7 linked regions of the Homo sapiens genome follow. The protein of the gene in region 1 interacts with the protein of each later gene in a pairwise test. Each region holds a gene or a part of one and is shown in the gene's direction. Other genes may lie near its edges.

Evidence for each region.
Region 2: the proteins of SH2D4A (region 1) and ZBTB16 interact in binary tests that used the Homo sapiens proteins (3 or more experiments, as listed by UniProt).
Region 3: the proteins of SH2D4A (region 1) and ZMYND12 interact in binary tests that used the Homo sapiens proteins (3 or more experiments, as listed by UniProt).
Region 4: the proteins of SH2D4A (region 1) and DBNL interact in binary tests that used the Homo sapiens proteins (3 or more experiments, as listed by UniProt).
Region 5: the proteins of SH2D4A (region 1) and CEP70 interact in binary tests that used the Homo sapiens proteins (3 or more experiments, as listed by UniProt).
Region 6: the proteins of SH2D4A (region 1) and CEP76 interact in binary tests that used the Homo sapiens proteins (3 or more experiments, as listed by UniProt).
Region 7: the proteins of SH2D4A (region 1) and NUTM1 interact in binary tests that used the Homo sapiens proteins (3 or more experiments, as listed by UniProt).

Annotation. Positions count from the first base shown.
Region 1 is NC_000008.11:19,334,193-19,337,692, forward strand, and holds part of SH2D4A (SH2 domain-containing protein 4A), read left to right. Parts: intron 1-493; coding exon 494-665; intron 666-3,500. UniProt on the Homo sapiens protein: Inhibits estrogen-induced cell proliferation by competing with PLCG for binding to ESR1, blocking the effect of estrogen on PLCG and repressing estrogen-induced proliferation. May play a role in T-cell development and function.
Region 2 is NC_000011.10:114,062,711-114,066,210, forward strand, and holds part of ZBTB16 (zinc finger and BTB domain-containing protein 16), read left to right. Parts: intron 1-500; 5' UTR 501-590; coding exon 591-1,858; intron 1,859-3,500. UniProt on the Homo sapiens protein: Acts as a transcriptional repressor. Transcriptional repression may be mediated through recruitment of histone deacetylases to target promoters. May play a role in myeloid maturation and in the development and/or maintenance of other differentiated tissues.
Region 3 is NC_000001.11:42,432,023-42,435,522, reverse strand, and holds part of ZMYND12 (zinc finger MYND domain-containing protein 12), read left to right. Parts: intron 1-137; coding exon 138-249; intron 250-2,234; coding exon 2,235-2,380; intron 2,381-3,500. UniProt on the Homo sapiens protein: Required for sperm flagellum function and male fertility.
Region 4 is NC_000007.14:44,054,702-44,058,201, forward strand, and holds part of DBNL (drebrin-like protein), read left to right. Parts: intron 1-2,055; coding exon 2,056-2,202; intron 2,203-3,080; coding exon 3,081-3,158; intron 3,159-3,427; coding exon 3,428-3,500. UniProt on the Homo sapiens protein: Adapter protein that binds F-actin and DNM1, and thereby plays a role in receptor-mediated endocytosis.
Region 5 is NC_000003.12:138,570,261-138,573,760, reverse strand, and holds part of CEP70 (centrosomal protein of 70 kDa), read left to right. Parts: intron 1-776; exon of another isoform or gene 777-828; 5' UTR 829-833; coding exon 834-902; intron 903-2,404; coding exon 2,405-2,495; intron 2,496-2,603; coding exon 2,604-2,727; intron 2,728-3,234; exon of another isoform or gene 3,235-3,262; coding exon 3,263-3,443; intron 3,444-3,500.
Region 6 is NC_000018.10:12,696,224-12,699,723, reverse strand, and holds part of CEP76 (centrosomal protein of 76 kDa), read left to right. Parts: intron 1-520; coding exon 521-745; intron 746-2,315; coding exon 2,316-2,501; intron 2,502-3,500. UniProt on the Homo sapiens protein: Centrosomal protein involved in regulation of centriole duplication. Required to limit centriole duplication to once per cell cycle by preventing centriole reduplication.
Region 7 is NC_000015.10:34,355,775-34,358,235, forward strand, and holds the end of NUTM1 (NUT family member 1), read left to right. Parts: coding exon 1-1,717; 3' UTR 1,718-1,961; downstream 1,962-2,461. UniProt on the Homo sapiens protein: Plays a role in the regulation of proliferation. Regulates TERT expression by modulating SP1 binding to TERT promoter binding sites.

The DNA of each region.
Region 1 (3,500 bases):
TCAGTTCCCAAGGGCTAGGGATGCAAAGCAGACTCTGTGGCACAGTGGATGGTGCATTGGACTTTCAAGGGCTGGGATGCTGCCCACTAGTGCCTGTAACTTTAAAACTATCCATGGACATATGAAGATAAAGGAATTATTTAATCATCGATTGGAAGCAGACGGTGTGGTTCTAATAGGTTAACTTCTAAACCAGGAGTTGAGCAGACCAGGGTTCAGATCTTGGCTGTACCACTATGTGGTCTTGGATGAATTACAAAATTTCTTGGAGCTCTTATAACAAAGTGAGGATGACAATGCCTTCCTCACAGGGTTGTGATGAGGATGAAGTTAACGTCTTTACACACCTAGCAAAGGGCCCAGCATGTTAGAAGCACTCAGTAAGTGGTGTCAGTTACTGTTTTTCACATAATTTGAATGTCGACATATGCTTTGGAAAGGCTCTTCCTGTTGAAGAATGTTTTTTGAGAATTTCACTTTTGCCTCTCTTCAGAAAAACTCACTCTGAAGAATTCACCAATAGCTTGAAAACAAAATCACAGTACCATGATCTGCAGGCTCCGGATAACCAGCAGACTAAAGACATCTGGAAGAAAGTGGCAGAAAAGGAGGAACTGGAGCAAGGATCGAGGCCAGCACCAACCCTGGAAGAAGAGAAAATCCGAGTGAGTCCTTACTGTCTGTAGACGTGCGGAATTTCATCATGGGGGAGAAAAAGCTATTGAGGCCACAGAGACTACTGTGGCTGAGTGTCAGGATCCTCCAGTGGCTTTCTTGGGAGAAATGCCTCCTAACTTTAAGATCCTCCAGGGCAGGCACGGTGGCTCATGCCTGTAATCCCAGCACTTTGGGAGGCCAAGGCGGGCGGATCACGAGGTCAGGAGATCGAGACCATCCTGGCTAACACGGTGAAACCCCGTGTCTACTAAAAATACAAAAAAAAAAATTAGCTGGGCGTGGTGGCGGGCGCCTGCAGTCCCAGCTACTCGGGAGGCTGAGGCAGGAGAACGGCGTGAACCTGGGAGGTGGAGCTTGCAGTGAGCCGAGATTGCGACACTGCACTCCAGCACTCCAGCCTGGGCGACAGAGCGAGACTCCATCTCAAAAAAAAAAAGATCCTCTTGCTCATGTCACTTGGGGGATTTACCTTCCATGCTACATCATGGAAAATAAAGCACCCCTATTTCATGAGACTGAAAGTAACAAGAACGCTAGGAATGCAATTTGGCATTTTAAGATATTTTCAGGTTCTCCTCAATGCTGCCCCATTATATGTCTTCTGTTACAGCAGAGGTTGGCAAACATTTTCTGTAAAGTGCAACATAGTAAATGGTTTAGGCTTTATGGGCCATGCCATCTTTGTCACAGCTATACACAAATGAATGAGCATGGCTGTGTTCCAATAAAACTTTATTTTCAAGCACAGGCTGAGGGGCAGATTTGGCCTGTTCATGATTTAGATTACATTCTACTGAGTCTTAGCCTTTTTGTTGCGGATTCTAAACATCAGTGCCTGTTGGGCTTCATTGGCTCTGCCTGTGACTTGGGGACAGTTACCTCCCCAACATAATAGAAATTTTATACTCAGAATTGGTATGAATTCTCTTATGGTTCAGATGGTTTAAAAAACTCAAACATAATTTGCTGGTTGGATTATAGTTTGGGAGAACAATGAAACACCTTATTATTCTACCAGGAATTTAATTACACTGAGAATTAACAGGGATTTGCAGTTGTTTGATTTCCATTTATGTCTCCAGCCCTGCAGCACTGGCTGTGTGTGCTTTTGACTTCTTTGAGGCTATCATATGGGAATACAGGTATCTCCTGCCTCCTCCTAGGACCTAGTGAGACTCTGATAACTAACATGGTCAGGGGTTATTCCACAGCAAAGCACACTGCTGAGTGTCTCATGTAATCCTCACAATAACATGAACTAGAGACATTTGTCCATTTTACAGCTGGGGAAACTGAGGCTAGGTGTGGTTAAGCAACCTGCCCAAGGTCTTATTCAAACCCAGGTCTGCAGGACCCCCAGGCTATTCCTTAAATATTAACTACTAACTCCTTAATTCTTAACTCTCATGTTTGGTTGTGTCATTAATATGAGGGCTATGAAGAAGCTTTTTATGAAGGGCTACAAATATGAGGCTCAAAATATTTAGGAAGAGAAAATTCTAAATTTGGTTTTTCATCTCAAGGTCAGCCCTGGACATGCTCCCCACATCCTCATTGAGGCCTCCCGTCCTCCCCAGGTGTGCTTTGCACTCAGCATGTGTAACACTAAACTCCCCCAACACGGCTCCCCTTCCCACACCCCTCCAACCAAGAACAACAGTAATAACAAGAAAGCTCCTTCCAGAGTATTAATTATGCAGCTGAGTGTGTTTGCTCACACTTGTAATCTCAGTGCTTTTGGAGGCCGAGGCAGGAGGATCCCTTTTGAGGCCAGGAGTTCCAGACAAGCCTGGGCATAATCCTGCAGAGACAGTGAGACCCCCATCTCTACAAAAAATTAAAAAAAAACAGCCAAGCATGGTGGTGCATGCCTGTAGTCCTAGCAACTCAGGAGGCTGAGGCAGGAGGATCGATTGAGCCCAGGAATTTGAGGCTGCAGTGAGTCCTGATTACACCACTGTACTGTAGCCTGGGGGACCAAGTGAGACCCTAAGTCTTAAAAAAAAGTATTAAGTATGTATGCTTATATTTGTGCTTGAATTACAGTACTTTTTTAGACCTTTTTTTTTCAAAAGTAGGACAAAAGATTAAAATGGAAATTAAAATAGATACCACAGTTATTATTCTTTAACCATCTCATAAATATTATATTGAGAGTGGCACTGTTGCCTTCCTTAGGTGCCTGCTAAACTGACATATGGAAAGAGATGGGGGCAGGGGAGAAAGAAATATTCAGATAGAAGGAATATGGAAATAGATGGGTGACAGGTTTTTATATTCCTGCTTTTTATCTTTCCCTGTGTCAGAGAAGATGCTGTCAGGGGCTCCTGTGGTATTTGCTGAAGTTCACTCTGACAGCAGGCCACACAGCGAGGAGCCTGATTTCACAGCTAGTGTGAGCCTTTAAAGAGGTCGTCTGCTACCTCTCAGACAACTGACTCGATGGTACATTTATATTTTTATTGTAAGTTGTGTATATGTCACTATAGTGGTCTGAATATTTATCCCCCGAAATTTATGTCCACCTAGAACCTCAGAATGTGAGCTTATTTGGAAATAGATCTTTGCAGATGTAATTAAAGTAAAGGATCTCAAGATGAGATCACCCTGGATTTAGGGTGGATCCTAAATCCCAAGACAAGTGTCCTTATAAGAGGAGAGCCAAGGAAAATGTGAGAGAGAGTGTACTAGTCTGTTTTCATGCTGCTGATAAAGACATACCCAAGATTGGGCAGTTTACAAAACAAAGAGGTTTAATGGACTTACAGTTCCATGTAGCTGGGGAGGCCTCACAATCACTGTGGAAGGTGAAAGGCACGTCT
Region 2 (3,500 bases), on another chromosome or scaffold:
ACTCTGCTTCTGGGGCTCCTGTAGTGAGGCAGAGTTTGGAAAAACTGTTTAAAGATAAGGCTTGACATCCAGGGGGCTGGCGTGAAGCTGACAAGGAAGGGGCTAAAGTCTTGCTAATTTTAAGTAAGTGCACTTCATCATAATGAATGTTGGCCTTGCCTAGGGAGCCCCTACTCTCAGACACAGAGAAAGCTGAGGACTTATAGGACTTCACTACAATTTTCATTTCACTTCATCTAACAGATGTCATAGAGTAGTGAATTAGGCATCTGCTGTGGCAGAACCTTCTTTTTACTCTCAGCATCCCTGGCTTGAAAGGCAGATTTGTAGATTTCTAGGAAGCTACTTCAATTAAAATCTCTAAGATCCTCTTGCTAAGGGCTTGGCAACAGGGAGGAGGGGGCATGTTGTAGTGGTTGAATTCTTACTTTTAGGGACACTGATGAATTTGTCTTTTGTTCTCTCATCTCTTTTGCTTCTTCCCCTCTTCTTTCTCCTAGCCTCCTCTATTGGCCCAGGAAGCCCACCCAGCCCCGCCACGCAGAGCCCAGAAGGAAAGAAAGCCTCATGCCTGAGCCGAGGGGAGCACCATGGATCTGACAAAAATGGGCATGATCCAGCTGCAGAACCCTAGCCACCCCACGGGGCTACTGTGCAAGGCCAACCAGATGCGGCTGGCCGGGACTTTGTGCGATGTGGTCATCATGGTGGACAGCCAGGAGTTCCACGCCCACCGGACGGTGCTGGCCTGCACCAGCAAGATGTTTGAGATCCTCTTCCACCGCAATAGTCAACACTATACTTTGGACTTCCTCTCGCCAAAGACCTTCCAGCAGATTCTGGAGTATGCATATACAGCCACGCTGCAAGCCAAGGCGGAGGACCTGGATGACCTGCTGTATGCGGCCGAGATCCTGGAGATCGAGTACCTGGAGGAACAGTGCCTGAAGATGCTGGAGACCATCCAGGCCTCAGACGACAATGACACGGAGGCCACCATGGCCGATGGCGGGGCCGAGGAAGAAGAGGACCGCAAGGCTCGGTACCTCAAGAACATCTTCATCTCGAAGCATTCCAGCGAGGAGAGTGGGTATGCCAGTGTGGCTGGACAGAGCCTCCCTGGGCCCATGGTGGACCAGAGCCCTTCAGTCTCCACTTCATTTGGTCTTTCAGCCATGAGTCCCACCAAGGCTGCAGTGGACAGTTTGATGACCATAGGACAGTCTCTCCTGCAGGGAACTCTTCAGCCACCTGCAGGGCCCGAGGAGCCAACTCTGGCTGGGGGTGGGCGGCACCCTGGGGTGGCTGAGGTGAAGACGGAGATGATGCAGGTGGATGAGGTGCCCAGCCAGGACAGCCCTGGGGCAGCCGAGTCCAGCATCTCAGGAGGGATGGGGGACAAGGTTGAGGAAAGAGGCAAAGAGGGGCCTGGGACCCCGACTCGAAGCAGCGTCATCACCAGTGCTAGGGAGCTACACTATGGGCGAGAGGAGAGTGCCGAGCAGGTGCCACCCCCAGCTGAGGCTGGCCAGGCCCCCACTGGCCGACCTGAGCACCCAGCACCCCCGCCTGAGAAGCATCTGGGCATCTACTCCGTGTTGCCCAACCACAAGGCTGACGCTGTATTGAGCATGCCGTCTTCCGTGACCTCTGGCCTCCACGTGCAGCCTGCCCTGGCTGTCTCCATGGACTTCAGCACCTATGGGGGGCTGCTGCCCCAGGGCTTCATCCAGAGGGAGCTGTTCAGCAAGCTGGGGGAGCTGGCTGTGGGCATGAAGTCAGAGAGCCGGACCATCGGAGAGCAGTGCAGCGTGTGTGGGGTCGAGCTTCCTGATAACGAGGCTGTGGAGCAGCACAGGTAGGCCCCGCTCCAGCCCCGCACCTGATGTAGGACTTGAGGCCCTCACACCCCTCCTTCACACCCTGGCTGCTCCCAAGTTAGGGGCCTGGCTCCCCTGTCTTGGCAATTTGTGAAAAAACCAGAACACTTCTTCTAAAGTTCTGGCGGGGAGGGGAGCAGGTTTTTTAAAGTGTAGTGAGGGGGCCTAGGATCTTTCCAAAAAGCACCAGGGGACACTCATGGGCGCAGCTTCTTAATAGGCCCTTCCCTTTGTTTTTTGCTTTTGGGCCCCTGTTTGTTTTTTCGGCTGTTTGGTCTGTTCTCCTTTGCTTGGAGTGACTGATAAAATGGAGAGAAGGAGAAAAGGAGTGGGATGAGGGTCTCTTGGGCCCTGCATCTGACCATGTTACTAGGTTTCAGGTCCTCGGGTTCCCATGCAGTGGTCCCTGTGAAGACAGCCTGTCCCTTTCTGCAGCTTGGGAGAATGGGAGGGTCTGGGGGCTGCTTAAGCCACAAGAGCAGCTGCAGGTTCTGAACCTTATTCCTGGTGAAAGTTAATCTCCTTGCTCTGTCTCCCTTCTCATTCTCTGATCCTGCACATGCATTTAGGGGGAATTGATTTAAATGCAAGGGGAAAGGATGGGTATAAGAGTCTTGGTCTTGCAGCCTGTGAAGTCTCATTCTTATCCCATCTCTGCTCACACTGAACTAAATGCCGCTTCAGGCTAGCATTGGCTTCCCTCCGGCTTCCGTTTCCTTCTCTATGAAATAACCATTCATTGAGCTCTTATGACATGTTTGGTTCAGTACTAAGCACTTTCCATGAGTTGCATTTTCATTACAACAGCCCTTTGAGATAGGTAATGTCCTTCTTTTTTTTTTGGATGTGAAGTTTCGCTCTCCTTGCCCAGGCTGGAGTGCAATGGTGTGATCTCTGCTCACCGCAACCTCTGCATCCCGGGTTAAGGTGATTCTCCTGCCTCAGCCTCCCGAGTAGCTCGGATTACAGGCACGCACCACCATACCTGGCTAATTTTGAATTTTTAGTAGAGACGGGCTTTCACCGTGTTGGTCAGGATGGTCTCGAACTCCCGACCTCAGGTGATCGGCCTGCTTCGGCCTCCCAAAGTGCTGGATTACAGGTATGAGCCACCGTGTCCAGCTGGTAATGTCCTTCTTTTACATGGAACAATACTAAGGCTCAGATGTCAAGTCTCTTTTCTAGGGTCACATAGATAGTAAGAGGCAGAGCTGGATTCAAATTTAGGTCCTTACCCCCTGGTACTTTGCTGCCTCTTGGAGTCACTTAGACTTGAAGAGGATCATGTCTATGGAACAGAGCGTTTTGAAGATTGCTTATAGGAAGTGGAGTAAATAACAGGGGGGATAAGTAGCGAGTTTGTTTTTTTTTTCCTTGCTTCTGTCATAAACCACGTGCCCATCATTTTATCCTCTAGTTTCTGGGTCAGATGAATGGAGTCAAGAAATCCAGCTTTCTGTTGTCATTGACGACAGCATTTGGCTGCATACCCTGTGGTCTGCTGTTTTGCTGATCTTGGGTGGATTCTCCACTTCCTCCCCCTTCACCCCCATTCCCCTGTTGCTCGTTCAGGTACGGGGGATGTGAGTGAGAGGGGTTGGGGTGGGGATATCTGGAAGT
Region 3 (3,500 bases), on another chromosome or scaffold:
TCTGCCTCCAGGCACAGTAAGAGAGAGAACCTCCAGGTTGTCCAGAAGCCCGGCCAAATGCGCTACTCTCCTCACCTGCCTGGTCCGACGGCTGAGGTCTGGCCTGCTTGTTGTATTACCATCTCTTTTCCCAACAGGTCTCTGAGATCTGGCATGCATATTTGAACAATCACTATCAAGTCCTCTCACAGGCTCACATCCAACAAATGGATTTACTGGGCAAACTATTTGAGAATGACACTGGCTTGGGTAAGTGGCAGTTTTCCCTGAAGGGAGAGCAGTGACTTCATCTCACCCAATACACAGACCTTGTCCCTAAGAGGGAAAGCAGCTGTCCCTGTCATGAAGCACACCATTGCCACCTTCCCCATGTTGCTGATGGAGAAAACTGAGACACGGGGATCAAAGAGATTTTACCAGTGTTGGGAAGAATTCAGATCCCTATCATCACACATAGCCATTCGGGGGTTACTAAGGGACAGATTTAGAGGGAAAAAAAGACCACATCAAAGCCCCCTGTGATTTCTGCAGAGCATCCATTTCTATGTTATCCCTCCAGGGCAGCAGTCCCAATCTCTCCCTGGCACCAGGGACCCGTTTCATGGAAGACAATTTTTCCATGGACTGGGGGGCGTGGGAGGAATGGTTTCAGGAGAATTCAAGTGCATTACATTTATTGTGTACTATGTTTTTATTATTATTAATATATTGTAATATATAATGAAATAATTATACCATGCATCATAATGTAGAATCAGTGGGAGCCCTGAGCTTGTTTTCCTGCAACTAGATGGTCCCATCTGGGAGTGATGGGTGACAGTGACAGATCATCAGGCATTAGATTCTCATAAGGAGTGTACATCCTAGATCCTTTGCATGCACAGTTCACAATAGGGTTCACGCTCCTAAGAGAATCTGATGCTGCTGCTGAACTGACAGGAGGTGGAGCTCAGGTGGTAATGCAAGCAATGGGGAGTGGCTGTAAATACAGATGAAGCTTTACTCGCCCCTACCACCCCTGCTCACCACCTGCTGTGCAGCCCGATTCCTAACAGGCCACAAAACAGTTCTGGTCCATGGCCTGGGGGTTGGGGACTCTTGCTCCAGGACACGTAAGCCAAGGTAGACTCTACACAGAAGGTGCATTGCTGATTTCTTCTGGTGCCTTAACTTCATGCTTTACTGAACAGTGAGCTTCTCAGTGGCAGGGCCCAGTTGGATTAAACTGTATTCCCCGGGCCAGCAAAGGGCTAAGTGTTGAATAGTACCGTACAGCATCATGCCCTCAGAGACAATGAAAAGACACAGAGGATCTAGTTTCTGCTCAAAAGAGACATACAGTGCAGTTGGTGATATAGAACCTATAGGCAATAACAAAAGAACATTCCTGTGAGTACAAATTATGTTACAAGATGAGTCCCAGAATGAAGAGGTGAGGACAGCTGGGTGGTGTTGAAGAAGGAAGACTCTTTGGAGGAGAGGTTTTGAGCTAAAGTTTAAAAAATTAATAACTTTATTGAATTTTCTCTCATTATGTAAATAGTTCATGTTATAGCTGAAAACTTGGAAATCATAGATATCCAAAGATAGCCAACCTTAACATGATGGTGTATATCCTTTTCGTCTTTTTCTCTAAGCTTAGTACTTGTATAAGTGCTTTTAAATGCATGTAGTGACTTCTCAGTAAATGATGACTAAAGTAGGACCAAAAACTACTGGGGAAAATAGTAAACAGACTCTCAGAGGGAAGCATGAAGGTTGTTGCTTACGCATCTATGGCCTAGACGAGAAGAGTTAAGCTGCTGCAGCTGCAAGAAGTCCCTTCCCCCAGTTCTCTCCTCTCAGCTGTAGAGTGGAATCTGAGTTGGACCCAAGGAATCTGCCTGTGGCAGATTATCTGTGTTTGTAAGCCCAAGAGATCTAGAGTTCAGGACTCCGAAAGAGAGAAACCTTAGCAACTTTGGGACCTGTGGGAGTGAGCCTATTTTTAGGCTACTCTGATAATGGCATGCTAAGCAAAGCTGGAAAGCGGTCTGAAACTCCTGCTTCGGAGCTTCCTGCTTTGCACCTGGAGGGAGTCCTCTAGGTAAAAAACTTGCTGTAATTGGTGCTATTTCCACCAGTGCCCTTGGGAAGGCTTCAGCAGACCAGGCGCTTTAACAGCTGAGTGCTTTTGATGAGGGCAGACTCAGTTGCCAAGAGCCTGTTTTTTCTTTCTTCCCCTTCCAATGCAGATGAAGCCCAAGAAGCAGAAGCCATTCGCATCCTGACTTCAATCTTGAACATTCGAGAATCTACATCTGACAAAGCCCCCCAAAAAACCATCTTTGTTCTGAAGATCCTGGTCATGTTTTACTACCTGATGATGAATTCTTCAAAGGCAAGTTTCCCTAAAAAAGCAACACGTCTAAAATGAAGGTAGAAATTCAACTAGTTGAACTCAAAATTTGTGTTTTGCCCAATTCCAATAGCTTTTGCCCTCAGAGCAAGCCCTCACTCCAAAGAGGTTCAGATGCTCACGATGTTTCTCCTGTGTTGAGTCTAGCCTGCATAATGGAAATTGGATTGTCTTCTTCCCCCGAGGGTTCCCAGTCTTGCATAGATAAAGAGAGTCTGAGGCAGTGCTGGGAAGCCTGCAGGGCAGGAAGGCTCTGGGGAGCCTTGGATGGATGAAGTAGCCGCTCTAACTCCACTCAGTTACTGAGTTCCCTGTTGCTGCGGGGATTCAGGCAGAAATGCATTGCCATGAAATGATTCAAAAAGTAACTTTTTGAGTACTTTTACCTACCAGTTATTGGCCTAAACCCTTTACATAATTATCATACTTAATGCTTACACCAACATTAATGAGGTAGCTATTTTATTATCTCTACTTTACAAACAAGGAAACTGAGGCACCGAGAGGGTCAATTCTTTGCCCAATGTCTTACAGACAGCAAGTAGCATATCTCAGGTTTATTGACTTATTGGTTGATTCTCTCATTCATTCAAACATTTATTGAAAATCTACCATTTGTAAAGCACTAATCTAGGGACTGGGGATACAGTGGTGATCCATACGTTTCCTATCTCTATGGCACTGGTGTTTTTTGGAGGAGTGGAAATAAACATATGTATGTGTAATATAATTTCAGATAGTAGAAACTGTTATAAAGAAAACTAGCCAGGCACAGTGTCTCATGACTGTATTCCCAGTACTTTGGGAGGCTGAGGAGGGATGATTGCTTATGTCCCGGAGTTCAAGACCAGCCTGGGCAACATAATGAGACCCACTCTCTACTAAAAATAAAAATAAAAAGATCAGCCGGGCTAGAGGTGTGCACATGTAGTCCCAGCCACTCGGGAGGCTGAGATAAGAGGATTACTTGAGCCCAGGAGATTGAGGCTGCAGTGAGCCGTGCTTGTGCCTCTGCACTCTAGCCTGGGTGACAGAGCAAGATCCTGTCTCAAAAAAAAAAAAAAGAAAAAGAAAAAGAAAAGAAGAAGAAGAAGAAGAAAAA
Region 4 (3,500 bases), on another chromosome or scaffold:
CCTTCTGTACTATTGAATACTAGAATTTATTCCTTCTATTTAACTGTACTTTTGTACCTGTTAAGCAACTTCTCTTCATTTTCTCTCCCCCATGCCCTTCCCAACCCCTGGTAACCAGCATTCTACTCTCTCCCTCCATGATACCCACTTTTTTAGCTCCCACATGAGTGAGAACATGCAATACTTGTCTTCTGTGCCTGGCTTATTTCCCTTAACATCATGACCTCCAGTTCCATCCATGTTGCTGCAAATGACAGGATGCCATTCTGTTTTATGGCTGAATAATATTCCCTCATGTTTATATACTAAATTTTCTTTACCCTTTCATCCATTGATGGACGTTTTGGTTGATTCCGTATCTTGGCTATTGTTAATAGCGCTGAACTTCAGAGTTGGATATATCCCCAGCAGCTGGATTGCTAGATCATATGGTAGTTCTGCTTTTAGTAGGACTAAAATACTGTTTTAAAAACCATACTGTTGTCTAGGCGCGATGGCTCACGCCTGTAATCCCAGCAGTTTGGGAGGCCAAGGTGAACAGATTACCTGAGGTCAGGAGTTCAAGACCAGCCTGGCCAACATGGTGAAACCCCGTCTCTACTAAAAAAATACAACAATTAGCCAGGTGTGGTGGCGGGCACCTGTAATCCCAGCTACTCAGGAAGCTGAGGCAGAGAATCTCTTGAACCTGGGAGGTGGAGGTTGCAGTGAGCCGAGATTGTCCACTGCACTCCAGCCTGGGCAACAGAGTAAGACTCTGTCTCAGAAAAAAACCCAAAAAACCATACTGTTTTTATAATGGCTGTACTACTTTACATTCCTACCAACAGTGTATAAGAATTTCCCTTTCTCCACATCCTTGCTAGCATTTATTTTTTATGTTTTTTATAATAGCCATTCTAACTGTGGTGAGATGATAGCCCGTTATGGTTTTGGTTTGCATTTCCCTGATGATGGTTAGTGATGTTGAGCATTTTTTTGTATGTAGTTAGCCATGCGTATATCATCTTTCGAGAAATATCTGTTAAGGTCTTTTGCCCATTTTAAAATCAGATTATTATTTTTTTGCTACTGAGTTGTTTGAGTTCCTTATATATTCTGGTCACTAATTCCTTGTCAGATGGATAGTTTGAAGATATTTTCTCCCATTCTGTAGGTTGTCTGTTTACTTTGTTGATTGTTTCATTTGCTGTGCAGAAGCCTTTTAGCTTGATGTAGTCCAATTGGTTGATTTTTGCTTTTGTTGCCTGGGCTTTTGAGGTCTTAACCCAAAAAAAATCTTTGCCCAGATCAATGTCCAGGGGCATCTACCCAGTGTTTTCTTTGAGTAGTTTCATAGTTTCAGGTCTTACATTTAAGTCTTTTTAACCCATTTTGAGTTTTTTTTTAATATGGTAAAAGATGAAGATTTAGTTTCATTCTTCTGCATATGGATATCCAATTTTCCTAGCCCTGTTTATGAAGGAGACCGTCCTTTCCCCAGTGTATGTTCCTGTCACCTTTGTTAAAAATGAGTTGGCTGTGTGTGTGAGTGCTCTGTTAGTTTCCATTGTTGTGTCTGTGTTTATGCCTGTACCATGCTGTTTTGCTTACTGTAGTTTTGTAGTTTAATTTGAAATCAGGTAGCATGAAGCCTCCAGCTTTGTACTTTTTGCTTCAGATTGCTTTAGCTATTCAGGGTCTTTTGTGGCTTCCAGATGGCATTTAAAATTAGTTTTCATTGATTAGAAGGAAGGCCTTTGATGCAAATTATGCCTGGGCTGTCTATTGATACACAGCAGGGAACAGCTACAGAAGGAACCACTGGATAGCACAGTGGAGGTCAAGGGTCTCACGTGAACTGGGACAAGAATGAGGGGTTTGCTCCAAGTTGGTTTGTTTGAGCCCTTGAGGGGAACTCGTGCCTCAGTTTTCAGCAGCCAGACAGGTGCCTTCTAGTTTCCTGATTCCAGTCCTGTGTGGTATAGTAGTGGCCCGTGCTGTATGGACTGACAGGAGTTTGGCCCATCTCCTGGGCTTGCAAAGCCCTTCTTTCAAGTGCTGCTCCTGCTGCAGGGGGCCCATGTGACCATCAACGCACGGGCCGAGGAGGATGTGGAGCCTGAGTGCATCATGGAGAAGGTGGCCAAGGCTTCAGGTGCCAACTACAGCTTTCACAAGGAGAGTGGCCGCTTCCAGGACGTGGGACCCCAGGCCCCAGTGGTGAGTGCTGCTTGCCCATCGCCAGCCCTTTTGTTGCTCAGGGCCTGAGGCAGGGGGCCAGGAATATGCACTTCCCAGCACCCGGGCTGGCTGGGCCCATGCCTGCTTAGTTTCTGCAGATGGTAACCCCTGAGCTGTGGTGATTGCCCACTGACCAGATGAGCAGGAATAGCCCTCTGACCTTGCCTAGGGGTTGGACTAGCTGTTCTGGAGCCTTCCTCTGGAGCCCAGCCTGTGTGGTCAGAGTGGAGGCTCTGCAGCATGCATGGCTATGATAGTCTGGCTGCCCTCAAGGTCATGGCACTGGAACATCTTGGGCTGCCCCTGGAGGTAGCCACCGTGGAGGAACTAAAGGAGGCATCAAGGCGGAGCCTGAAACCAGAGCAGGCCCCTTGGAGTCACGGGAGATACCTGTGGGCCTGTGGCCCCAGTGCTGTGTGGAGCTGATGGCTGGGAGCTGCGTCCGCATGCGTGTGGTTGGACGTGATTCCTTGGATGCTCTTGTGGTAGTCAGCTGTCTGAGTGCCCCTGGTCAGAGGCCTGCCTCAGAACTGCCCAATGTCTAGGAGTCTGCAGGTGGGGTATGGGGGCCTTTCTTGCCCTGGCCCCCATCCATGAGGGCGAGAGACCACCAGAGACCCCTCTAGTGTTGTCTGGGATTGAGCATCCCCCTTGGGGCAGTGTCCTGGGCTTCTTTCAGGTCATCTTGGTGTGTGTCTCCTTGAGGGTCACTGGGCAGTGCTCTGCTGCCTCTGCTGGGTCCAGTCCTAGCAGCACTCACCTGTGCTGTCGCAAGTTTAGCGTATTCTCTCCTTTGGTGCCTGTGGGCCTGGCCTTCCACCTGGGTCCAGGTCTCTAATGAGTGCTGTCCCCTACAGGGCTCTGTGTACCAGAAGACCAATGCCGTGTCTGAGATTAAAAGGGTTGGTAAAGACAGCTTCTGGGCCAAAGCAGAGGTGAGTGCTGCCCCGGGGCATGCTGGGCACGTGGGAGTGTTCTGCTTGCTGTGGCTCATCTTTCCTCACAAGTGAGCTCATGCAGCATCCACTCTCCTTGGTGCCCATTACAGATGGTCACACTGAGGCTCGGGTAAGTTAAGCCACAAGGCTAATGATCGACTGGCTCTGGTGCCCGTCTTTGGCCATGTGCCTAAAACTCAGTCCTGGGCAGGGGATTAGGCTGAAGTGGCAGCATAGGGCTGAGCGGGCAGTGGCTCTCCCTGCAGAAGGAGGAGGAGAACCGTCGGCTGGAGGAAAAGCGGCGGGCCGAGGAGGCACAGCGGCAGCTGGAGCAGGAGC
Region 5 (3,500 bases), on another chromosome or scaffold:
CTACTCTCAGCTAATATATTTCTGTTACTGTGCATTTTAATTGTACATTTTATACTTCACAAGATCTCATTATGTAGTCTGTGTTTAAACTCGCCCATTTTTTTGCTCTATTTTTTTCTACATCTCTGCTTTTCCATCAGGGAGTCTTCTGCATGAAGCAGCTTCTTTAGAATTTTTTTACAGAGCAGATGCAATGAACACTCTCAGATTTATTTTGTGTCATGTGTTTGAAAATATATTACTTTTGCCTTTATTATTCGTTAATGAATGTTTTCACTGGCTTTGGAATTTTAGATAAGCAATTATTTTCTTTCAGCACATTGAAGATATTAGTGTCTAGGTATGACTGACTTTTTTTTTCTTTTTTCTTTTTTTTTTTTACTGTATCCCAGTTGCAATATGTTGGGTTTCTAGAATGTGTGGATTTATGTCTTTCATTGATTCTCAAATTTTTCTTAGCCATTAGCTCTTCAAATGCTCCTTCTACTCCATTCTTTCCTCTGTTCTTGGGTACCAGTTATGCATTCTGTGGTGGGGGGTTAGACAGGACAGAGTGTATGTGTGTGTGTGGTATATGTGTAAAATCCCAGAATGCTTTATTTCCAGAGGAGAACATTATAAGATAGGGTTTATTCAAATGAGTCTTACAATCAGCTATCTAAGAAGTCACAAAGTTTTGACGCAGGAATGACCTGAATTGCCCTGCAAGAGTAGTGGATTCTTTTAAATATACTTTTCTTTAACTCCTTTTGCACTTTTTGTCTTTTTTCATTTAGGCAACTCAAATTTTTTAATTGCCAATTTCTGTTTCTTTTGATTCTACAAAAGTAACTATGTTTCCGGTAGCCCCTAAACCCCAGGATTCCAGTCAACCATCAGACAGACTCATGACTGAAAAACAGGTAAACTTAAAATATTTTAAGACACTGCTTCTCAAAATATGTGCCAAAGAATGCTACATCTACAAACAGGAAAATTTGACTTTAAAAGGATTCTTTCTCAAATAATTTTAGGAAATGCTGGGTTAAAGACTATGAAATGGTTTAATTACTCTAAGACTTCACAATATTAGTCTCCAAAGGGAGGATTTAGTATACAGCATTTCATACATACTTAACACTAGTTTGATGAACATTTCATTAGACTAGTGTTCTGTAGCATGTACTTTGGAAAATGCCATTCCCAACTATTTTCAGAATTTACAATTACTTTATCTTAAAATGTAAGAGGTATCAGGAAACAATATGTATAAGTTAATCATTCAAAATATGTGACTTTATTATGTATAGAGCATTTTGTTTTTATGAGTTACAGTAGAAGTTCTGAGACACTAACTCAGAGCTTTTGGCTCCTAAAACAACATCAATGTTAATTTTAGTTGTGTCTACCACGTAGTTAAACTCTGTGATCAGAAAGACTAAAGCATAAATGAGAGAAAAGTTATGAGTGGGAGGAGATGTAAAAAAAAGGAGGAAGAAGTCAACAGTCAAAAAGAAAGACTTGTTTGACTTTGAGAGTGTCTTTCAGGGTGATTCTGTTAGAGTCAGTTATCCAGATGGACGGGCTCCTTTTTATAGTTAGACCTTGTCCATTTGACAAGGAGCTGTCTGAAATATTGGCTCCAACTAGTCAGGTATGTTTTGATTTTTTTGTGACCCTAGTCATTATGAAAGTGATACTTAGGGGCTGGGGCGGTGGCTCACGCCTGTAATCTCAGCACTTTGGGAGGCCAGGGCGGGTGGATCACCAGGTCAGGAGATCCAGACCAACCTGGCTAACACGGTGAAACCCCATCTCTACTAAAAATACAAAAAATTAGCCGGGCGTGGTGGCGGGCGCCTGTAGTCCCAGCTACTCGGGAGGCTGAGGCAGGAGAATGGTGTGAACCTGGGAGGCAGAGCTTGCAGTGAGCCGAGATCGTACCGCTGCACTCCAGCCTAGGTGACAGAGCAAGACTCTGTCTCAAAAAGAAAGAAAAAAGAAAGTGATACTTAGAAGTGACTCACCTTTTCTTTTCTTTACTATCCAGTTATTATAGCCTAGTTTACAGCTGTTTATTCTGAGCAGGGCTTGGTTTGGCTTAGTTAAATCTAAAACCTTAGATTTATTTGATTCACTGAAATTACAAGGTGTTTTTGTTGTTGTTGTTGGTTTTGTCCATTGAGGCCTACATATGAGTATTCTGTATAATGCAACAATTTGTGCTTATTTACATACTTCTAGTCTATTACTAATTTTGCTAGAAACAATAAATGTGTTTTTTGGATATTATATATGCATAAACATTTATACTTAAAACTTTTGAAGAAAAAGTTCTATTCTGAAAATGCAGGAAATTATATATGAGAGAATTTCTTCACTTTATATCTAAAGTTAACCCTTTCTTCTCTTTCTGTAATTGTAGCAGGAAGAAGCAGAATGGGAAAGCATAAATGTGCTATTGATGATGCATGGCTTAAAACCTTTGTCTCTAGTCAAAAGAACAGATCTCAAAGGTAATTAGATCCTATTCTTGATGCTTAAGGTAAAAAGTTTATTTTTCCTTAAAAAATTTTTTTTGCCTTTTATTTTTACTATCTGTATTATATACTTTTTAAATGTAGATCTCATCATTTTTGACAAACAGTCATCACAAAGGATGAGACAGAATTTGAAATTGTTGGTGGAAGAAACATCATGTCAACAGAACATGATACAGGAGCTTATAGAAACTAATCAACAGCTTAGGTGAGAAAATGGAAAAGATTTCTTTTGAATTGTTTGTATGCGTTCTAAAAATAACTGCCTTGAAAAAAATCTTGAAATTTAATTTCCCATTTTGATTAAATATTAAACTAAAAAATATTTTTGTAGGTAAAATTTTAATAGGTAAATCTTTTGGTAATAGCTTAGCATAGATGTTTAATGGTACCCTATATTTCTTCTATTAGTTTCTGTTGCAGGATGAGCATCTCAAATCTGAAAATCTGAAAGGCTCCAAAAATTGAAACTTTTTGAGCACCAACATGATGCTTAAAGGAAATGCTTATTGGAGCATTTTGGATTTTGGATTTTCAGATTTGAGATGCTTAACTAGTAAGTATGATGCAAATATTCCAAAATCTGAAAAAATCTGAAATATGAATCACTTCTGGTTCCAAGCATTTTGGATAAAGAGAATGCAAAGAAACTTTAGAAAGGCAATACATTCTTATATGGATATGCTTGGTAATTCGATTTATTTTTAATACTAAGGGAAGAAATTGTATGTCTATTAACTTAGAAATGAACTTCAGCTAGAGCAAAGCCGAGCAGCCAATCAAGAACAACGAGCTAATGACTTGGAACAAATTATGGAAAGTGTGAAATCCAAAATTGGTGAATTGGAGGATGAATCACTAAGTAGGGCTTGCCACCAACAGAATAAAATAAAAGATCTTCAAAAGGAGCAGAAAACTTTACAGGTACTGAGTTATGAATTCTTAGATGATGGTTAGTTAGTACTAAAACAGCTCATTATG
Region 6 (3,500 bases), on another chromosome or scaffold:
AAATACTTAAAATTTTATGGTTGGCTAAAACAGATTGTTTTGCATGAAGTATATCAGAAGAGTTAATGTATAGCACGGTAGAAGCAAAAACAGCATCACCAGTTTCTTGTGTTTTAATAATATGTTTTATAAAAACTGTACAGCCTTGCTTTTAAATATTAATATAATTGACAAATACACTTGCTGAATTGATAATTATATGAGTTGGTTTGTGAAGGTGGAGGAATGTTGGATAAGCAGTTAAAAAGCAAAAGTATACTACATATTGGCTCTGATGCCTTTTCCAGCTGGGAGAAAGTAGCCTGGATGTAAACTCAGAAAAGAATATCATATTTTGTGTATCTTCTCCCCAGAGTGCAAATGATTCTGGCATATACAGTAATAAATTTGTTACTCTTTTGCTTTTTTTTTAGTCTTTGGTATTGGGTTTTTATCTGTCAAGTTTTTATTTCCTAATGTCTTGATCACATTCTTTTAAGTTATTTGGCAGTTTCCTCATATATATTGCTACACTTTACAGCTAATATTGATCCAACACGGAGGTATCTTTACCTTCAGGTTTTGGGTGGAAAAGCTTTCTTGGAACATCTGCAAGAACCTGAGCCTTTACCTGGACAAGTTTGTTCAACGTTTACTTTATGTTTACATTATCGAAACCAACGTTTTCGTTCTAAACCTGTTCCATGTGCCTGTGAACCAGATTTTCATGATGGCTTTTTACTTGAAGTACACAGAGAAAGCTTGGGTAAGAAACAGTAATAAATTGTCATTTAATTGAGTAAATCTTTGTTATGTTTTATTGTGAAACAATAATAATGACTTTTTCTGTAAGGAGAGATTTATAATGGAGGAATCTCTATTTTGTTTCCCACTGCTCTTTTCAATTTAAACTACTATCCACCTTCTTGCAATATTCTGTTTGCTATTCATTTTCCCTGGATATTATTTTTTGACTGTTTTCATTGTTGATTCTTTAGTAATACACACTTAAATACCTATTATGTGCATAGTGTTATGCTAGGCAGGTGCTGGGATGATATAGTGGAAAATGAGACATGGTCCTTCTCATTTATAAAATATAACCAGATTGATGATGTTATGTAACTTTTAAAAGTCGAAGTTTAGGCTGAGCACGGTGACTCACAGCTGAAATCCCAACACTTTGGGAGGTCTAGGTGAGAGAATCATTTGAAGCCAGGAGTTCAAGACAAGTCTGGGCAAAGTGAGACATTGTCTCTACAAAAAATAAAAAATAGGCTGGGTGTGGTGGCTCATGCCTGTAATCCCAGCACTTTGGGAGGCCAAGGCAGGTGGGTCACCTGAGGTCAGGAGTTTGAGACCAGCCTAGCCAACATGTCGAAACCCTGTCTCTACTAGAAATACAAAATTTCTAGCCGGGCATGGTGGCAGGCGCGTGTAATGAGCCGAGATCACCCCATTGCACTCCAGCCTGGGCAACAGAGTGAGACTCTGTTTAAATAAATAAATAAATGAATAAATATTTATAAATTATTTATAAAAACTTCTAATAAATTTTTATAAATACTTACAAATAAATATAAATAAAATAAAAAGTCAAATTTAGATGTGAACATATAACTGTCATTTTAATTTTTTCTTTTTTTTCTTATTTCTCCAATAAAGCATGTAATTCTCATAACTAAATTTTATGCTACTTGATTCCTGTAATTGTTTTACACTATGTTTCTTTCAGTAAAGGTATTTTGTATTTTGTAATTGTCAGTATGGAAATCTTTATATTTGTAAACTAAGCAAAGTTTCAGAATGTCTTCACAATTTTAGATTTAAAGATGACTGAAACATTACTAAAATTTATTTTTTTCCCTTTGAAAGATGTTACCTTAATAAGGCAATTAATAGGATAAATTGCTAGATTCGATGTGCTGTATTTTTCAGTTGTATGTCAATTATACAGTGATAATTTCTGGAGGTTAAAGGGATTTCTTGAGGTAGTTTGGGGATTAATATTGACATACTTGAAGGCTTTTTATTGTAGTAGCATATACTTTAGTTAAGTACTTTTAAAGAACAGACTTATCTTATGAATCAGAAAGCACTGATATGCTGTAAGTTACTGGATAACTCATCACAATTTGCCAGTCTTCTGAAAAGTTAGTGATAGAAATAGGACTGTACTTGTATTTCCAGTTTTTTGCATGCTTTCTGAGACATTAGCAAATTGTTCTCTTTGGTTTTATATAAGCTTATTATTTACTGTTTAATAAAAGTATTCTTTTATGTTGGCCTAACTGAATATGTAGTGTGGTATAATTTCGTTTGGATTATATTGCTAGGTGATGGAACTAGAATGGCTGATTCAACAACAATGTTATCAATAAGTGATCCAATTCATATGGTGCTAATCAAAACAGACATATTTGGTGAGACGACTTTAGTAGCATCATATTTTCTGGAATGGCGATCGGTTTTGGGCTCAGAAAATGGAGTGACCAGTCTGACTGTGGAACTTATGGGTGTAGGTATGGTGATTAATATATCATTGTTAACCTTTTTATAGCCACAGTTCATTTGTAAATATATTTTATATCTTTAAAATGCTTTTATAATCCAAGAGGGAAACCTGTAAAATAGAATTTCGTTAGAGTTACAATTGGACCTCAGCATCCTAATCTTGAGAAATGTCTTGAAGAATAATATCAGTATAGCACTTCATGGTCAATCTGACCTTGTCTTAGGAGAAATGTTTTTTTCTGGAAAATGAATACAGGAATTTTGAGGGTTTTAATTTCAAGTTCATTTGATTAAATATAAGGCTATAAAGAAAATTAATATTCTTGACACACATACAAACTTATGTGTGTCCAGTCATCACACCCTGGAATACATCCCCTTTGGTACCAGTGATTCTTGCAAAATACAGAGTAGATGTTCTCCCAACCTTTTACAGTGTGGGTGAGTGAGACTCGGAAGAGGAAATAATTTGCTCAGTGTTAGTATCAACTAGTCCTTGAGGGCAGAGCTGGTGCCTATCTTATTTATCATAGTCTCCTTGGAATCTTGCACACTGCCCGCTATGTAACACATACTTGCTAATAAAATGAGAAAACAAAACCTACCAATGTTTTATCTATAACATATAATGGAATTACTTTGGTTTTTAAACTTAGTCACAGAGTTAAACCTTGCCAGTGGACAGCATAGCCTTAGTAATTTAGATTATTATTATTATTATTATTATTTGAGATGGAGTCTCGCTCTGTCACCAGGCTGGAGTGCAGTGCTGCAATCTCGGCTCACTGCAACCCCCGCCTCCTGGGTTCAAGCGATTATACTGGCTCAGCCTGCTAAGTAGCTGGGACTACAGGCATGCACCACCACACCCAGCTAATTTTTGTATTTTTAGTAGAGATGGGGTTTCACCATGTTGGCCGGGATGGTCTCGATCTCTTGACCTCGTGATCTGCCCGCCTCGGCCTCCCAAAGTGCTGGGATATTGGCGTGAGTCACCGCGCCCAGCC
Region 7 (2,461 bases), on another chromosome or scaffold:
CAGCTGGGACCTGCAGCCAGAACTTGCAGCTCCACAGGGAACTCCGGGACCCTTGGGTGTGGAGAGGAGAGGGTCTGGGAAGGTTATAAACCAGGTATCTCTACATCAGGATGGCCATCTAGGAGGCGCTGGGCCTCCTGGGCACTGCCTGGTGGCTGATAGGACTTCAGAGGCTCTGCCCCTTTGTTGGCAGGGAGGCTTCCAGCCTGAGAGCACTCCCAGTTTGGATGCTGGACTTGCAGAGCTGGCTCCTCTGCAAGGACAAGGGTTAGAAAAGCAAGTCCTGGGATTGCAGAAAGGACAACAAACAGGGGGTCGTGGAGTGCTTCCTCAAGGGAAGGAGCCTTTAGCAGTGCCCTGGGAAGGCTCTTCAGGAGCCATGTGGGGAGATGACAGAGGTACCCCCATGGCTCAGAGTTATGATCAGAATCCTTCCCCTAGAGCAGCTGGGGAGAGGGACGATGTCTGTCTCAGCCCAGGAGTTTGGCTGAGCAGTGAGATGGATGCTGTAGGCTTGGAGCTGCCTGTACAAATAGAGGAGGTCATAGAGAGCTTCCAAGTTGAGAAGTGTGTAACTGAGTATCAGGAAGGCTGCCAGGGACTGGGCTCCAGGGGCAACATTTCCCTGGGTCCTGGAGAAACCCTAGTACCTGGGGATACGGAGAGCAGTGTGATTCCCTGTGGAGGCACAGTTGCGGCAGCTGCCCTAGAAAAGAGAAACTATTGCAGCTTGCCAGGACCTTTGAGGGCCAACAGCCCACCCTTGAGGTCCAAAGAAAATCAAGAACAGAGCTGTGAAACCGTAGGGCATCCCAGTGATCTGTGGGCAGAAGGTTGCTTCCCATTGCTAGAAAGTGGTGATTCCACACTGGGGTCTTCCAAAGAAACCCTTCCACCCACATGCCAAGGCAATCTCCTTATCATGGGGACTGAGGATGCCTCCTCCTTGCCTGAAGCCAGTCAAGAGGCAGGGAGCAGAGGCAATTCCTTTTCTCCTCTGTTGGAAACCATAGAACCTGTCAACATACTAGATGTTAAAGATGACTGTGGCCTCCAACTAAGGGTCAGCGAGGACACCTGCCCACTGAATGTTCATTCTTATGACCCCCAAGGAGAAGGCAGGGTGGATCCTGATCTGTCCAAGCCTAAAAACCTTGCTCCTTTACAAGAGAGTCAGGAGTCTTACACAACTGGGACTCCCAAAGCAACATCTTCTCACCAGGGCCTTGGAAGCACTTTGCCTAGAAGGGGAACCAGGAATGCCATAGTTCCGAGAGAAACTTCTGTTAGTAAAACACACAGGTCAGCAGACAGGGCCAAAGGAAAGGAGAAAAAGAAAAAGGAAGCAGAGGAAGAGGATGAGGAACTCTCCAACTTTGCTTACCTCTTGGCCTCTAAACTTAGCCTCTCACCAAGGGAGCATCCCCTCAGTCCTCACCATGCCTCAGGAGGTCAGGGCAGCCAGAGAGCATCCCACCTGCTCCCTGCTGGAGCAAAAGGCCCCAGCAAACTTCCATATCCTGTTGCCAAGTCTGGGAAGCGAGCTCTAGCTGGAGGTCCAGCCCCTACTGAAAAGACACCCCACTCAGGAGCTCAACTTGGGGTCCCCAGGGAGAAACCCCTAGCTCTGGGAGTAGTTCGACCCTCACAGCCTCGTAAAAGGCGGTGTGACAGTTTTGTCACGGGCAGAAGGAAGAAACGACGTCGTAGCCAGTAGGGAGCAGCGGGACCATCTGACCCCACTTGCCAGTCCCTAAAGGTGGGTGCCCCAGAGTAGATTCCACCCCTGCTGCCCACCAATGGAGAATCCCAATGTTGAATCTCATCCCAATGTTGTTTTGTTGTTCTGCAAAAGTGGCAAGCATGGAGAGAGAGGTCAGACTGGCTAGGCTGCAGGGGGAATTACCTTTGGAAGGAGCTATATAGAAAAAAAATGAATAAAGTGTTTTGTTGGAAAATGCTCTCAGAGTGCCCTTTTTCTGTACTCGTGTCTTTGCTGCTAGATAGGGTTAAGATGCTATGAAGAAAGGCTGTAGGGGTAGTCTTAGATTCTACAAATCCATAAATCTTGTCTCCAGCCTTATCTTGGCTCCCTGCAGCCTCCTCCTGGCAACAGACTGGCTCTCAGGCTGTGATAAGTCTCCAAACTGAGGAATCTCCAATGATCACATTATACATCCCCTCTTCACAAGCCTGGACTTGGTGTCAGGAAGGCTTATCTGGGCATCTTATAATTATCTGCCTCCCTTGAAGTCTATAGATAGAAAGATGCTTTTCTACCTGTTAGATCTCTGAGATAGAGATCTAATTTTCTTTCTTCTTTTTTTGAGACAGGGTCTCGTTCTGTAGCCTAAGCTACAGAGTGCAGTGGCATAACGATGGCTTATTGCAGCCTCAACCTCCTGGGCTTAGACAATCCTCCCAGCTTAGCCTCCCAAGTAGCTGGGACTACAGGTGTGCA